Linked DNA regions of Homo sapiens: region 1 is linked to region 2. The links come from fine-mapping of genetic effects on gene expression. Tissue or cell type: aorta. Region 2 holds a variant in brackets; the other region holds the start of a gene. All regions are shown on one strand. Distances are between the middles of the regions.

The links. PIP is the estimated chance that this variant, and not a neighbour inherited with it, causes the effect.
Region 1: TMEM216 starts here. The variant in region 2 is fine-mapped to the expression of TMEM216 in aorta (GTEx, PIP above 0.99).

The regions. Positions count from the first base shown.
Region 1 is chr11:61,388,965-61,397,068 of GRCh38, reverse strand. TMEM216 (transmembrane protein 216) reads right to left here and starts at 4,482. Exons shown (of 5, transcript NM_001173990.3): 1 at 4,404-4,482; 2 at 3,737-3,838; 3 at 3,093-3,185. The coding sequence starts at 4,437. RefSeq lists an enhancer at 3,756-4,717.
Region 2 is chr11:61,087,700-61,095,803 of GRCh38, reverse strand. It overlaps LOC105369325 (a long non-coding RNA gene), which reads left to right and starts at 3,446. Exons shown (of 2, transcript NR_188502.1): 1 at 3,446-3,507. It also overlaps a transcript of CD5 not described here. RefSeq lists enhancers at 2,883-3,845, 4,124-4,173. The variant G/T (reference allele first, on the strand shown) is at 4,951.

The sequences.
Region 1 (8,104 bases), 300 kb before region 2:
TTTTATACGTATATATTCACATATTACTATTTATTATTATAAAAATAGAAGCATACCCTACATCCTGTTTTGCAACTTATTTTTCCCCCACAAACATTTTTCCACACACATAGCTACCTTAATTTTTTTTTTTTTTTGATAGTGTTTAATTCTGTCACCCAGGCTGGAGTGCAATTGCATCATCATAGCTCACTGCAGCCTCGAACCCCTGGGCTGAAGGGATCTTCCCACTATAGGTACACGTCACTATGCCCAGCTAATTTTTTTTTTTTTTTATTGAGACGGAGTTTCTTGTCACCCAGGCTGGAGTGCAATGGAGCGATCTCGGCTCACTTCAACCTCCACCTCCCAGGTACAAGCGATTATCCTGCCTCAGCCTCCCAAGTAGCTGGGATTACAGGTGCCCGCCACCATGCCCAGCTGATTTTCGTATTTTTTAGTAGAGACAGGATTTCACCATGTTAGCCAGGCTGGTCACGAACTCCTGACCTCAGGCAATCCGTTCGCCTCGGCCTCCCACAGTGCTAAGATTACAGGCGTGAGCCACTGCACCTGGCCTTAACTGTTCTTTTTAATTTTTTTTAATTTTTTGAGACAGAGTCTAGCTCTCTCGCCAGGCTAGAGTGCAGTGGTGCAATCTCGGCTCACTGCAACTTCCGCCTCCCGGGCTCAAGTGATTCTCCTGCCTCACCCTCCCGAGTAGCTGGGATTACAGGCACGTGCCACCACACCCAGCTAATTTTTGTATTTTTAGTAGAGATGGGGTTTCATCATGTGGGCCAGGATGGTCTCGATCTCCTGAACTCGTGATCTGCCTGCCCCAGCCTCCCAAAGTGCTGGGATTACAGGCGTGAGCCACCATGCCCAGCAACTGTTCTTTTTTAATGGTTATATACAAGTCCGTTGAATCAGTGCCGTAACTGATTTAACAATCCCGTATGGACAGATGTTTAGTTTGTTTACAGTGTTTTGATGTTACCAAATTTTTGGCAATAAACATTCTCATATAGCTATCTTCGCATATCTGTGGAATTTTTTTTTAATCTAGTTTTAGAAGTGAAATTGTTGGGGCTAACAGTAAAACATTACACAGTAATAACTACTACCCAAGAGTTGTACTAAATTAAATTACCACAAAAGTGTATAACAACCTGTTCCCCACACCCTAATACTGGGTGTTATAAATCTTTCTTTGCCAGTCTGATGGGTAAAAAATGTTACTTTGTTTCAATTTGATTTTTATTAGCGAGTTTGAGCATCTTGTCAAGTTTTACTGGTTCTCTGTAATTATTTTTACATGAACTGCCATTAATGTCCCTTACCAATTTTTTTTTTTTTTTGAGTCTCACTTTGTCGCCCAGGCTAGAGTGCAGTGGGCGATCTTGGCTCACTGCAACCTCTGCCTCCTGGGTTCAAGCGATTCTACTGCCTCAGCCTCCCAAGTAGCTGGGATTACAGGTGCGCGCCACCACACCCAGCTAATTTTTGTATTTTTAGTAGAGACGGCCACCATGTTGGCCAAGCTGGTCTCAAACTCTTCACCTCAAATGATCCACCCACCTCGGCCTCCCAAAGTGCTGGGATTACAGACGTGAGCCACTGCGCCCAGCCAATTTTTAAAGTTATTTTGTTTTTTCCTTAGTGATTTATGTGAGCCTTCTTTTATCCTTTCTTATATGTTGCAAGTAATTTTGTTCCTAAGTTTGTGCTTTAACGTTGATTTCAGGGATGACATATTCTAACAAATAAGGGTTTTGCTCTGTATTTCTGGGGTTATAAAACTTGTCCTACAGGCCAGGCATGTTGGCTCACGCCTGTAATCCCAGCACCTTGGGGAGGCCAAGGCAGGAAGATTGCTTGAGGCCAGGAGCTTCAGACCAGCCTGGGCAACAAGGCAAGACACTGTCTCTACAAAAAACACAAAATTAGCCAGGTATGATGTCGCACACCTGTGGTCCCAGCTACTCAGGAGGCTGAAGTTGGAGGACTGCTTGAGCCCAGGGCTTCAAGGCTGCTGTGAGCTATGATCGTACCACTGTACTACAGCCTAGGTGACAGAATGAGACCCTGTCTCAAATAAATAAATGTTTAAAAAACAAAATCTGGCCAGGTGTGATGGCTCACACCTATAATCCCAGCACTTTGGGAGGCCAAGGCGGGTGGATCATGAGGTCAGGAGATCGAGACCATCCTAGCCAACATGGTGAAACTCTATCTCTACTAAAAATATAAAAACTTGCCGGGCATGGTGGCAGGCGCCTGCAGTCCCAGCTACTCAGGAGGCTGAGGCAGGAGAATTGCTTGAACCCGGGAGGCGGAGGCTGCAGTGAGCCGAGATGGTGCCACTGCACTCCAGCCCAGGTGACAGAGTGAGACTCCATCTCAAAAAAAAAAAAAAATCCAACCAGGTGCAGTGGCCCACATTTGTAATCCCACCACCTTGGGAGGCCGACACAGGCAGATCACAAGGTCAAGAGATCGAGACCATCCTGGCCAACATGGTGAAACCCCGTCTCTATTAAAAATACAAAAATTAGCTGGGAGCAGTGGTGCACGCCTGTAATCCCAGCTACTCAGGAGGCTGAGGCAGGAGAATCGCTTGATCCCGGGAGGCAGAGATTGCAGTGATCCGAGATCGTGCCATTGCACTCCAGCCTGGGGACAGAGTGAGACTCCATCTCAAAAAAAAAAAACAAAAAACTCCTACAGAGATCCTTATTCAGAGAATTGTTAGGGATCTTAGTACTGATCTGTACAGGATACACTGCCTGCCCTGACGTGGAGTTACAACTGAACCTATTCCCCTAAGAATACTAGTGAGAAGAACCAAGCACTCTTCTTGCAGTTAGGCAGCTGGGAAGGAATCATCTAATATCCCATTCTATTGCCCATCTCTAGCCTTACAGAGCAACAAACAGGTAAATCTTGACCCAATGTATGAAGCAGCAACTTGAAACTTCAGAGACGGAGTAATAGGATATACAGATCCAGTCTATGATAGTCAACCTAGGTTATGTACTTTTCTTGTTAATCAAGTTACAGATACCAGCTTGTCTCATAAGGAGTGGAAATATTCTCTGGACAACACTTACCAAAAAACAGGCGAATTACTTCAATTCCAAGATAAAGGAGGAGCATCACCACATCCAGTACTAGGTTAGCTGTTGGATATGGTAGCAGGACACCTGCCAATACAAAAGCCAGAGTTTGCAAACAGCATATAACAGCACCCACAAGAACTGCCACACACTTGGGAAAAAAGAGGACATCAGTCTCAGCTTTCCATGAACTAGTTAGTGAGATGTGGGCATTATTACAGCAGCAGGATACATAAACTCACAATGCGACTCAGGCTCATTATTATGGTGTTTTACTCCTAACTCCAAAAGTCTCTGGGGACTCCACTCTCCAAAATGATTGGATGTACATGGGTACACAGGCCACTGAATAGTTTCTAAGGGTCACCAGTGGGCTTACAGTGGAGCTCAGCAAAGAGCAGTGATGTGGGCAGAGTCAGAATGGAGAAGCCCACATTTCTCAAACTCAAGAAATTCTTGCTGAGGGGCTGCCTATGGAATCATACTCAAAGAAGCCATCTGATGAGGAGGCCTGCCTTGCAGCGACAAAGAACTGCAGGGGGCAGAAAAGAACGGAAAATAAGAAGGTTCTTGGTAGGAATTGGCTCTGAGCTGAAGTGGGGAAGGGATGCTGTCGTCAAGCCCCAAGCCTTCCTTACCTTTATACAGAAATATGAAAAGTTCCAGCAGGAAATAGGTAGCATTATACCACCCGTTCAGAAAGAACAGGATTTCCAGCGGGGTGGAGGACAACCGTTTACCTGAAAAAGGAGCACAGAGAAGTGGGATGGGCCGGAAGGCAGCTCCCTCTCTGCTCGTATGGGTTGGTGTCTAACTTTGGGGAAACTAGACGCTGCAACTAATGGGACCGGCCACTCAGGGGCACTTCTGGTTGCTGATAATGAGGGGGCGAGGGTACGGGGGTGGGAGTGGAGGGGGCTTCCCTCCTTTCCTAGGAATCACCGTGAAACTCGACTCTTCGGCTTCAGGAATAAAAGTCAAGAGGTAACTCGCAGCTGACAGACATCTCAAAGATCTCACTCTGTCACTATTTGGGAGGGGAAGTTGGGGCGCAGAGACCAACAGATTCGCACCTGAGCCAGCCTAGAAGTGGCCCAGCCAAGGATCTGCGTTTATTTGAGCTGTGCACCTTGAGACCTTCAGGCACCCAGGGTGGGCGGGACCGCGGAAGCCGGCTTTGGACCAGGGAGGCGCGACGTCCCTAACGCTAGAGAATGGAGGGTTTAGGTCAAGCTCTGGGACAGAGGTGGGAGGGAGCGACCGAAGGGAAAGGGACCAGCGACTCACACACCTCCGGAATCTCACCTCGCGGCGCCATCTTCAGTCCCCGTGGCAGCATACGCTGCCACAGCGGCTCCCGGAGCAGCGCGGCGCTGCCGGAAACAGGGACGAAGCGGCCTGGGTTTCCGGCCCCTCTGCCCGCCCGCGGCACTCTGTGGTCACCCGGAGCTGGACGAGCTCGGGCCTGGCCGCAAGTGGCCCTCGCTCGGATGTCCCCTCTCCAGACCTAAGGGATAACGGTGACCACCCACGACGCCGTCGTCTGCAGGACCTCAGGGGTGCGGGGGAGGACCTTGGAGGCTCTCAGACTACCGGGCGTTGGGCGGAAGTGGCCAGTTGTGATAGTGTTACCAGGAGATTGGCAAATAGGTCCTACTCCCACGATTCTCTTTTTTCAACGGAAGACAAGAAAAGGTGTGAGCGACGGATCTCTGCAAATGCAGGGTGGAGTTAGCATTGGTCTTTTCTGCGGCCGATTTACCTACCAGGTAGAGACACGAAGGAAATAGAGCGTCCTTTCCAGGAACACACATAAATAAAATGAAACGAGTCACCACGCGATCCATAAAGTGGTGCAGTGGGAGCTGAGAGGACAAAGTGCTCCCAGGTGGAAATCTAAGTTAGTTTCCAAGAGACGGCCTGTGAGCTGGGCTTCAAAGCCTGCCTGATCCGGATTTGCAGCGGTAAAAGCGTGTTGCTGGCCGGGCTTAGTGGCTCACGCCTGTAATCCCAGCACTTTGGGAGGCCGAGGTGATGGATCACCTGAGGTCAGGAGTTCGAAATCAGCCTGGCCAACATGGCGAAACCCCGTCTCTACTAAAAATACAAAAATTAGCCGGGCGTACTGGCGCGCGCCAGTAGTTACAGCTACTTGGGAGGCTGAGGTAGGAGAATCGCTCGAACCCGGGAGGCGGAGGTTGCAGTGAGCTGAGATCGCGCCACCGCACTCCAGCCTGGGCGACAGTGAGACTCTGTCTCAAAAAAAAAAAAAAACAGAAAACTGTGTTGCTGCAGGCAGGGGAGTGCAAAAAGAAGGGTTTTGAGAGGACTCAGGTTGACTTGACTTGGCTGTTAGCCCGTTGTCAATCAGGGTAAAGCAGGAAACAGATGGCACGCTCCAACCAGGTAGCCTGAGGAAGGTGACTAAGCTTTATTTTATTTATTTCATTTTATTTTTGAGACGGAGTTTTGCTCTTGTAACCCAGGCTGGAGTGCAATGGCGCTATCTCTGGTCACTGCAACCTCCGCCTCCTGGGTTCAAGCGATTCTCCAGTCTCAGCCTCCCAAGTAGCGGGGATTACAGGTGCCCCCCACCACACCCGGCTAAATATTTTTGCATTTTTAGTAGAGACGGGGTTTCACCATGTTGGCCAGGCTGGTCTGGAACTCCTGACCTCAGGTGACCCGCCCCCCCCCCCCCCCCCCCCCCCCCCCCCCGCCTCCCAAAGTGCTGGGATTACAGGTGTGATTAATGCCCCCGGCCAAGAGTGACTAAGCTTTAAGCAAAGTGCTGTACCCCTGGCTAATTGGGATGTGGTGGGGCGGTAATTGTTACTTCTAGGCTTAAAAGGGAAGGGCCTGAAACAATTCCCTGAAGCTGGAGAGTAATATGTGCATAGAAGGCCTCCCACTAGGAACCCTCACACTCTAGGAGGCTAGTGGATAAATATAGCAGGGACCTCCATTTCCCTTCTCCCATCTCTGATCTCTGCTTATGTCTCCCGCTGACACAACTTAACTGCAAGCTGGAGGGCAAGGAAGCCCTTTAGGGTAAGTAGGAAAGCGCAGAGCACAGAGGTTAAGGTGGAAAGGAATCCAGATCCTGCTTCCCCATCTTCGCTGCCTGCAAGACAAGAGACATTAGAAAAGTTCCTGCTCTGAGCCTGATATGGAAAGAAAGTGGGCCAGCTGCACCTGGCGCGGTGGCTCACACCTGTAATCCCAGCACTTTGGGAGGCTGAGGCGGGTGGATCACTTGAGGTCAGGAATTCAAGACCAGCCTGACCAACATGGTGAAACCCCATCTCTACTAAAAATACAAAATTAGCCGGGCATGATGGCACATGCCTCTAATCCCAGCTACTTGGGGGGCTGAGGCATAAGAATCGCTTGAACCTGGGAGGCGGAGGTTGCAGTGAGCTGAGACCAAGCCATTGCACTCCAGCCTGGGCAACAAGAGTGAAACTATGTCTCAAAAGAAAAACAAAGAAAGTGGGCCAGCTGCTTGTTTTTGTAAATAAAAGTTCTTTGGAGAACGTCATCATGGTCACTTACTTACATGTTATTATATATTGCAGCTTTCATGCTATTATGGCAATGTTAAGTAGTTGCAACAGAGACCACATGGCCCACAGCCTTAAATACCATCTGACCCTTTAAGAAAAAGTTGGCTAATCTATGTCAGAGTATGCCACAACTTCATAGATGCCAAAAGCTGACAGTGAGGCCAAATTACTTATGGCAAACAGCAGGAACATCAGCATGGCAACCTGGGGGCCCCCTGCTCCCAAGTCCTATGAGTGACACAATGACCCCAGATGGTGCTGCACTCAAGGAGTTATGCCACAGCTTGGTGGAGCCCAGAGCCAAAGGCTCAGTACCCTTTTTAGCAAGCAGCAAATAAAGCCAGGCCCTTTCCACTGGGGAGGGAGAAATTATACTATCATCACACTATAGTCACTTTGGTCTACTTAATTGCTTCTGTGCTCAGTATCAGGAGACAGACTTTCTGGTTTGACATAGTAAGAACATGCAGGGATGCTTAGGACCCATGCAAGACTGTCCCAACAGCCAGTGCCCTTGCTAAATTGATTATTTCTAGGAGGCTTGTTATGTACATGATCACATCATCAGTAAATAAAGACATTTTTACTTCCTTCTCAATCTCTATACCTTCAATTTCTTTTTCTTGCCTTATTGCACTGGCCAGGACTGGCAGTGTAATGTTGACTATAAGTGGTGATGATGGATAGTCTTGTCTTGTTCCTAACCTCAGGGGAAGCGTTCAATATCTCACCATTAATATGGTGGCTATAGATTTTTTTTGTAGATACTCTTTATCAGATTAAGAAAGTCCCTTATTATCCTAGTTTGCTAAAAGGCTTATGATATATTTTATTAAGTGTGTTCTCTTAATCCGTTGAGAGGACTATATGATTTTTCTCCTTTATTCTGCTAATATGAATTACATTGATTTTCAGAGGTATGACCAACCATGTCTTCCTGGAAAAAATAAAAAACCCATTTGCTTATGAGACTGTACAGAAAAAACTTAACATAGCAGACCTGAGGCTGCTGTCTTTGGAGAGGCCCAACTGCAAGGTTGACCCTTGCCTGGCGTAAGGGAACTTGGCTTTTGGTAGTGTTCCCACCAGTTTAAAGTGGCTCACAGTGCCTAAACTGTACAAACAATGTGGCTTATGCTAAATACCTGTTCTCCTTCTCAGAGTCTGGAGTTTTGAAACATGTTAGGCAGAGGGTGCCTTCATGATCAGCTCCCAGTAAAAACCTTGGGGGCTGGGTCCAGTGGCTCATGCCTGTAATCCCAGCACTTTGGGAAGCTGAGGCAGGAGGATCAATAGAGCTCAGGAGTTCAAGACCAGCCTGGACAACACAGTGAGACCCTGTCTCTACCCAAACAAAAAAATTTAGCCAGGCATGGTGGTGCACACCTGTAGTCCCAGTTACTTCGGAGGCTGAGGCAGGAAGATTGCTTGAGCCCAAGA
Region 2 (8,104 bases):
TGTGCTGGACTCTCCTCTTTTCCTTGGATGACCTCAGAGACCTTATTTACATTTGTAGCCTTTTGAGCCCCTTTCCTTAGACCTTCTATTAATGCCTCACGGTACCGTCTTAGCCTCTCCATGTCTGGTCCCTCGTTCAGGTCCTATTGGGGGTCTGTTCCTGGCAGCTGAATTCTTATATATTCTTGGGGGTTTTGGTAATTGGCTGGGACGTGCTTCTCTAGCCACTTAGTTGCCGCCTGGAGCACCCTTCACCTTTCACCTGTATTAAAGAGGTACATGAGCAGCTGGTGGCAGTCAGCCCAAGTAGGATTATGAGTCTGTATAATAGTTTGGAGCAAGTCAATTAAAGCTTGAGGCTTTTCAGTGTAAGATGGAGTATTATTTTTCCAATTGAGGAGGTCAGCAGAGGTAAAAGGTTGATACACAAAGGCACGCCTTTCCACCATGTGTCCGTCCTCATCTACCCCAGTATATCACTGCTCTCTCAGGGGCATTTGGATTCCAGTCTTGGGCTGTAAGCGAGCTTTCAAGGGAGGAGTTTCTCCCGTGGCTTCACTTCCTCTTTTGTCTACTCTGGGTGGTCTGGGGTGTGGTTATCTGGTGGAGTTGTAGGTGCTGTGGGCTCAGGAGTGGGGAGCCCTTCCTCTTGATAAGGAGGGGATACTGCTGGTACCAATTCCTGCTGTGACTCTTCTGGTGTTGGGTTGGACAGGACTTTTGGTGCTGACTTCCCTCGGCGGGTGGGATCGAGAACCTTCCTTAACTAACTGTCCCTTTGCTACTAGTACTGCTGCTGCCTGTCCTCTTAACCACTGCGGGGGGTCCAAAACTAGCTGTAACCAAGAATCTATATGTGAGAACTGATCTGGGTGCCCTGGCTTACAGGTTACCCTGTGCCATACCTTCGAGACAAGGGACCTGTCCAGGCTTCCTTCCGATGGCCAACCCACCTCTAATGCTGGCCAGTCTATCTCACACAAAGCTCTAAGTTTTCCTGGTGTCATAGTGACTCCAGAGTCTCCCTTAAATCCCTTTTTGAAATTTTTCAACATAGTTCCTAGTGGGGTAGGCTTACTTTGTGTCTGACCCATGTTTCCTCGAGACAAAACACCATGCTCACACCACAAAACAAAGAACGGGTAAAAAGGGCACACACACACTTTTACAGTTTACGCCAAGCCAGAATCAAAACCAAAATCAGAGTATCAAGAAATCCAAGCCAGGTCAAAACCAAAACCAAAGTATCAAGCAATCCAAGACAAGTCAAAAACAAAAACCAAAGTGCTGGTACAGGCACACTGTGGGTGATCAGGACACGCTTCTACTCAAATGGAGTAGGCAAGTTCCCAAGACCAGTCCTGTCAAGCGATTCAAACCAAGTCAAAACCAAAACCAAAACCAAAGTGCTGATAAAGGCATGCCATGGGTGATTGGGCCATGCTTCCACTCAAATGGAGTGGGCAAGTTCCAAGGACTAGTCTTACCAAGTTTCAGTTGTCCGGACTCCAAGTGCCAGTTCCTTCCCTGTGTTCAGCCACTGCGTTGATCCTCCACAGGGGCCTGCCATGCACTGCTCTGACGAGGCATTCCACTGGGGCAATTGCCTACCTGGGAGCGCTCTGAGGATCCGTGTCGCTCAAGCTGGCCAGAGTTCCCCGCGGGGATGCTCCACAAGGCAGGCCTAAGCTGCCTAAGGGGCTGCCTCAACTGTCCGTTAATCACTTTGCTTCCTGGTCAGGGAACCAAGAAATGTAGCAGGACAAGCCACAGACAAAACCCCTCAGACACCAAGTTAAAGAAGGAAGGGGTTTATTCAGCCGGGAGCATCAGCAAGACTCCTGTCTCAAGAGCCGAGCTCCCTGAGTGAGCAATTCCTGTCCCTTTTAAGGGCTTACAACTCTAAGGGGGTCCGCTTGAAAGGGTCGTGATCGAATGAGCAAGCAGGGGGTACGTGACTGGGGGCTGCATGCACCGGTAATTAGAACAGAACAGGACAGGGATTTTCACAGTGCTTTTCTATACAATGTCTGTAATCTATAGATGACATAACCGATTAGGTCAGGGGTCGATCTTTAACTACCAGGCCCAGGGTGTGGCGCCGAGCTGTCTGCTTGTGGATTTCATTTCTGCCTTTTAGTTTTTACTTCTTCTTTCTTTGGAGGCAGAAATCGGGCATAAGACAATAGGAGGGGTGGTCTCCTCCCTTAGACCCACTTAGACACTCCCCGGTTTCTGCTCACTCAGGGCTGGAGGGTGCTGCATGCTTGAACCTCTTTGGCAGAGGGAAGCTTTGACCCCCACCCCAGGATCAAGGAAAGAGAACTCCTAAGGTAGCTGTGATTGGGGCCACACCCATCCCTCATCCAGCCTTCAGAGGTGCCTTTTCCTCCCGCCAGAGGTGCCCTCAGCCTGGGATGGGGAAACCTCACCCGGCCCCTCCCGGCCAGGCCTGGCCCAGTTCCCTGCCCCCTGCCCCTTGCCCTCACATCCATCCTTCCTGGTCCCTTGACTCTGGAAATCCCAGCCTCTTTCATTCATTCATTCATTCACTCATTCATTTATCAATATTTGTCCCATGCTAAGCCCAGGGATGTGAAGACGAAAGAGACAGACATGGCTCCACCCTTCTTAGCACCAAAGACTCTGCTGGGATGTTTTTTCTTGATGAGTGCTGTTCGTGGGTCACACAGCTGTGTGCAGTAAGCAGCCCTTCACAGCCCCTGTTCCCACACTCAGTGTACATAATTGCAGCCCAAAAGAGCGAGGAAAGTTTTACTAAGCACCTTCCTCTAGCCAGAGGCGTCAGCTCCTTCAGTCTTCCCAATTATCATGGAAGTGGGCACAGCTTTCCATTTCACAGATGAGGAAACTGAGGCTCAGAAGGTAAAGTATTCGGCCCCAGGAGGTCAACGCTGAAGTATGATCCCACGTTTTCCTCACTCTGCCACCCTTGCCACCACTCCCCACCTCCTTACCCAAAGAAAAGAAAACAAACCAAACATTTGGGCTTTGCTTTGATCTCAGAGTCTTCATCACAGTACAACTTCTACTCTTTTTGTTTGTTAGTTTGGTTTTGGAAAACTGAAAGTAGCTCAGGGCCTCGGGTTGCTGTCTTCCAGGCCCCCAGGGCTTGGCACTGCCTCGACCCTAGTGGAGGGGGTCGCTGCCCTCTGAGAACACTGCCCTATAGGCTCCCTCCCTGCTGCCCACCCCCATAAGTTACCCCTGCCCCTTTCACCCCTCCGGGCCTCCAGGTCCAGAAACCTCTGGGCCCCTGTCCCCACTCAGACCTCAGATCCCTGGCGGGAGTTTCCTGTCCCCATCACTGCACTTTCCATGACACAAGAGGAAGTCAGCTGAGCCCAGGCTGGGTTTTCCAGGCAGCGAGGCCCAGTAGAGGCTGAAGGTGGGGGAAGGGGTTGCTGAGCCCCCAGGGCCGGGTGTCAGAACCTCCTCAACCTCTACCGGAGAGGTGCCTGCCGGTGCTGCCGTGGGCCACACCAGGTAATCTGGGGTGGGGTGTGCCTGTGTCTGTCACCCCTCTGGACTCGGTGACTCCTCAGTGCCCCCAGGTGTGCCCTCTTCACTGGGGCAAAGGGGCACTAGGATCTGGGGAAAGGGGAGGAGCTGAGGGTGGGAGGGAGGAGGTGAAGGAGGCTGAGGAATGTGACTGGTGCATAGTAGGACCTCAGGGTTTGTTGAATGAATGAAGGAAGAAATCTATGGAATGATTCCCAAAGATAATGGATGGCCTGGTGGCCAGATGAGAAGGGCAGAAGAGGCCTACAAGTGTGTGTGGATGACTCAGTGACCTGGATCCTTGGAAACCTCTGTTTGGCTGTGGGGGTGGGGGCACCCAGGGAGCTGACTTCGCAACACTCCCCTCCCCGCCAGCTCAGGAAGTGCCTCTCCTCCCCCAGCTTTGTTCCCACCCAGTTTGGCTGTTGGTGGGGGGTGGGGAGGGGGAGAAGGAGGATCTAGGATCCAGGTCTGGACATGCATGTGGCGTGCAGTGTGGTGGAGACGCGCTGGCCTGGTGGCACCTGCATTCGAGTCTCACCTTTGGCACCTTTGCAGTCAAGTCCCTGTCATGCTCTGGGCCGAGGTTGGCTCATATGTAAAATGCAGAGATTGGATGGTCCCGAGGCCCAGCTCTCTTGTCCTAGGAACCCAGCATGAAAGTGTTTGACTGGCGTGCCGAGTCCAGTCGGAGGTGGGGGATTTCTCTGTGTGGGGCCTGGAGGTTTACCTCTTTCGCTAGTGTGAGAGGGAGCTGAGTGTTGAGTGAGTGTCAGGGCTTTGGGGAGGGGCAGAAGACTGAGGATTCCAAGTGGCCTGAACAGGGTCCCGCTGGCTTGGGAAGGTGTCTCAGTGTGTGTACTTTCCCCAAGTCCAGGTGCGAGTCGAGCAGCTGGGGAGGAGGCCGTCTTGCCTGGAGGGACAGATAAGGCTCCCCCACTGACCCCCTACTTTCCTAGCCCCTCACGGACAACACTAGGCAGCCTCCTGTGGCTTCTGGAAGGTCTGTGATCAGTGGTACCCTGGCGTGAGCGGGCTGGTTGGCTCAGGCTGCATTCGCCCCCGCCTCTGCTGGGCCCTCCTCAAGTTCCCCTCACTGGGGCTGTGTTCCTGGAGCCCCTTTCCATTGCTACCTGCCCCCCAACCCAGGCCTGCTGTAGGCCTGCCCACAGCCCGGGGTGCCAGTCACACATCCCGCAGCCTGAGGCCCTGAGGACTCAGCATTCATATTCACTCTTCCGCTGCTACTGTAAGATTAGACTTGTTCGACCATAAGGCATAGGCTTTGGTTGAGAAAATAAGGCCTCCTAGTAGTGTACGACAGGTGTTAATGAAGGCTGTTGTTCATGTGAAATAATTGAGGATCAGAGAGGTTATGTGAATTCTCCAAGGTGCACAGATAACCAACAGTGAGCTTTGGACTGGACC[G/T]CCAGGCCTCCTCTTCCACAGGCACCCCTTGCCCTGGTGCAGCCTCTCTCTCATCTCAGGCTGGTGCTTCTCGTGGCCATTTAGGGGTTTCGCTGTGTCACAGTAGAGATCTTGGGGGCCTAGGAGGCCGGCTGACCCAACTGTGTGTCCTCGGTGTGGCAGCCTTGGCCCTTGGAGCCTCAGATCCCATCTGTAAAACGGGTGGAACACAGCCTGCCTTGAAGGGATGTTGGGAGGCTGGCCGGGTGCACTTGTGGAAAAGGCTCACGTGGCGGTCAGCACGCAGAGCTTCAGCGTGGCTCTCAGCTTCTTAGAGCAGTGCTTAGCGTTCCTGAAGACCTGACACTGGTCAGGAGCGCTCCTGCCTTCTCTCCCCCGCACCTAGCACCCGGCACAAAGCTATTTCTTGAACAAATGAATGATTGACAGAGAAGCTTTCAGCAGGGACACATGAAACAGACTGACAAGCACACCCTGCTCCCCGCACCCCCCACCACCGCCCTGAGCTTCCAGCCCAGTGGGGAGGCTACCTGACAGGCAACTGGGACACAGCATGGAAAGGCCAGGCCTGAGGGAGCACAGAGGGGGACGCGTGTCCAATCCAGCCTCTGGGAAAATCAGGGAAGGCTTCCTGGAGGGGGTGACATCTAGATGAAGACCCAAAGGATGAGTGGTTTTCCAGCTTGGTGGTGGGATCAATTTTCCAGGCTGAGGGAAGCATGAGGACAATGACTTCTGAGTCCTGCTAGCGTAGTGGCTTCTAGATGGGTCCAGAAGTGGGACGCTGTGGGCAGCATCCTGGCTCAGCCCCTCACTGGCTCCGTGCCTAGGGTGGAGTCTCTCCCCCCGGGTCTCAGTTTATCTGTGAAATAAAGGCGCTGCACCAGATGGTCCACCAGATTCCTCAATCTGTCAGTTGAAGCTTGGAGTCTCATTTAAAGAATATCAGTTACCAGAAGCTGGAAAATTGATACAGCCATTTTTAAGGGATAAAATGGCAAAAGCCACATTAAAAAAAAATCTCGTATACACTATTACCTTTAGAGAAGCCTCCTATACTCACCAGGGTGCAAGGCAGTATGCACAGGGGTGCTGAAGTCACCAACGGATAATAAAACACGGGAAAGATAGGGCAAAGGGCAAATAAGTTCCAAACCAGCTACACTCTGGAATAGTTGGGAATATAGCCATCAAGAAAGGGCTCATAGATCCCCGTATCCTGACACAGAGAAATGTCCATGATATTTTTGCTCAGTGAAAACATTAAATTTCAGAACAATTTATATATTGCAGTCTTATTTTCATAAAATAAAAATATCAATGAGTTGAATAGTTTCTACATTTACAGAAATTAATTGTGGGGGTGAGATTTGATCAAGATGGTAGCATGAGGTTGGGTAAGGATTTTATTTTAAAAGGGGTCTGCAGAAAATCTTTTAAAGAAAAAAGTCCTGGTATTTGTTTGTATAATTATGTAAAACATATAACATTTTTATAACGTGATTTTTTAATAATAAAAATAATGCATGCTTTTGTGAAAAATTAGCAAAACTATAGAATATAAAGAAAAAATAAAACCACTCACAATCCTACCATTCATTATGACCACAGTTAATATGTTATATATTTTATTCTTTTCAATTTATAATTACGATAATCTACTGTTTCAAAATTAGTATCATGTATTTGTGATATACATGTTTATATGTACGAGGTATATATATTTTATATAAATTATATATCTTTTATAAATATACTTAAGATATATACACACAGATATCTATATGTAGATATATATAAAGAGATATCTTTGTATCTGCTTTTTTTCTTAAAGTATATCTTGAGTGTCGTGCCATGTCATAGACTTATATAACATGGTTTTTAAAAATGGGTCTACAATAGCTAATAAAAGTTCTGATTTTTACTTAACCAATCCCTATTATTGGACATTTGTGTTGTTTACTCTTTTTTTTTTTGTTTTTTTTTTGAGACAGTATCTCAGTCTGTTGCCCAGGCTGGAGTGCAGTGGTGCGATCACAGCTCACTGCTACTTTGACTTCCTGGGCTCAAGTGACCCTCCTTCCTCGGCCTTAGCTGGGACTACAGGCATGAGCTACCACGCTTGGTTAATTTTTAAAAACAAATTTTTTGTAGAGATAGGGTCTCGCTGTGTTGCCCAGGCTGGTCTCAAACTCCTAGGCTCAAGCGATCCTCCTGCCTCAGCCCCGCAAAGTGCTGGGATTACAGGCGTGAGCCACTTTACCCAGCTCCTCATTTTTTTTTTTTTGCTATTAAAAATAACTGTGATAAATATTTTTGCACAATCATATCCTTATTTCCTTTAATTAGAATTATTTGAATCAAGGATTATGACCATTTTAAATACTAAAAGCACACTGTAAAAATTGAATTAGTTACCTCCATCCCAACTTACTTCTAGTAGATCTGAATACTGATTGGCTGAGTTTACTTAAAGAGGGACACACTTGAGTAGGTTTATAACTACTTTAGGGATCAGGATTTTTCTGTTCCATGATGGGCACTCTAGGTGCCCTGTGACTGTCAGTGTGGAAGAGGTCCAGGTCCACCTCGAGGGACAGGTTTGATATAAGAATAAGACATGTTTGTGATCATTAGTGAGTGTCCAGGACTCCACCTTGGGGGACAAATTTGATATAAAAGTGAGACATGTTTGTGATCATTTACTGAATGTCCAGGACATTCCTCGAGTGACTTCTGTTTGTCTTTGATGGCGGGTCCTTCCCTTTGCCCATTGCTGGGAGGTTTGGAGGAGCTGAGGTCACCAGCCTTGTTTCAGAGATGAGGAGACTGAAGTTCTGAGAGATGAGGGGATGGGTCCAGGTGCAGTCAGCCTTGGCCTGTGGCAAGAGGCAGGTCCCCAAGGCAATCTGGAGAGAGTCGGTTCTGGTCTGGTGTGGAGGGTGGGAGGGCATAGCTCAACAACTTCTACCCCATCCACACCGATGTGGAGCGCTCACCTCGATATGTGTCCCAGCAAGCCCCAACACTTCAGCATGGGTTATATGTTCCTAATTCTGTAAGCTCTTCTGAGGCCAGGGCCATGTTGGGTTGACCCTGTGGGATGATCTGGAAACAAATACTTATTGGTGTTATATGTGGTGATGATGATAGT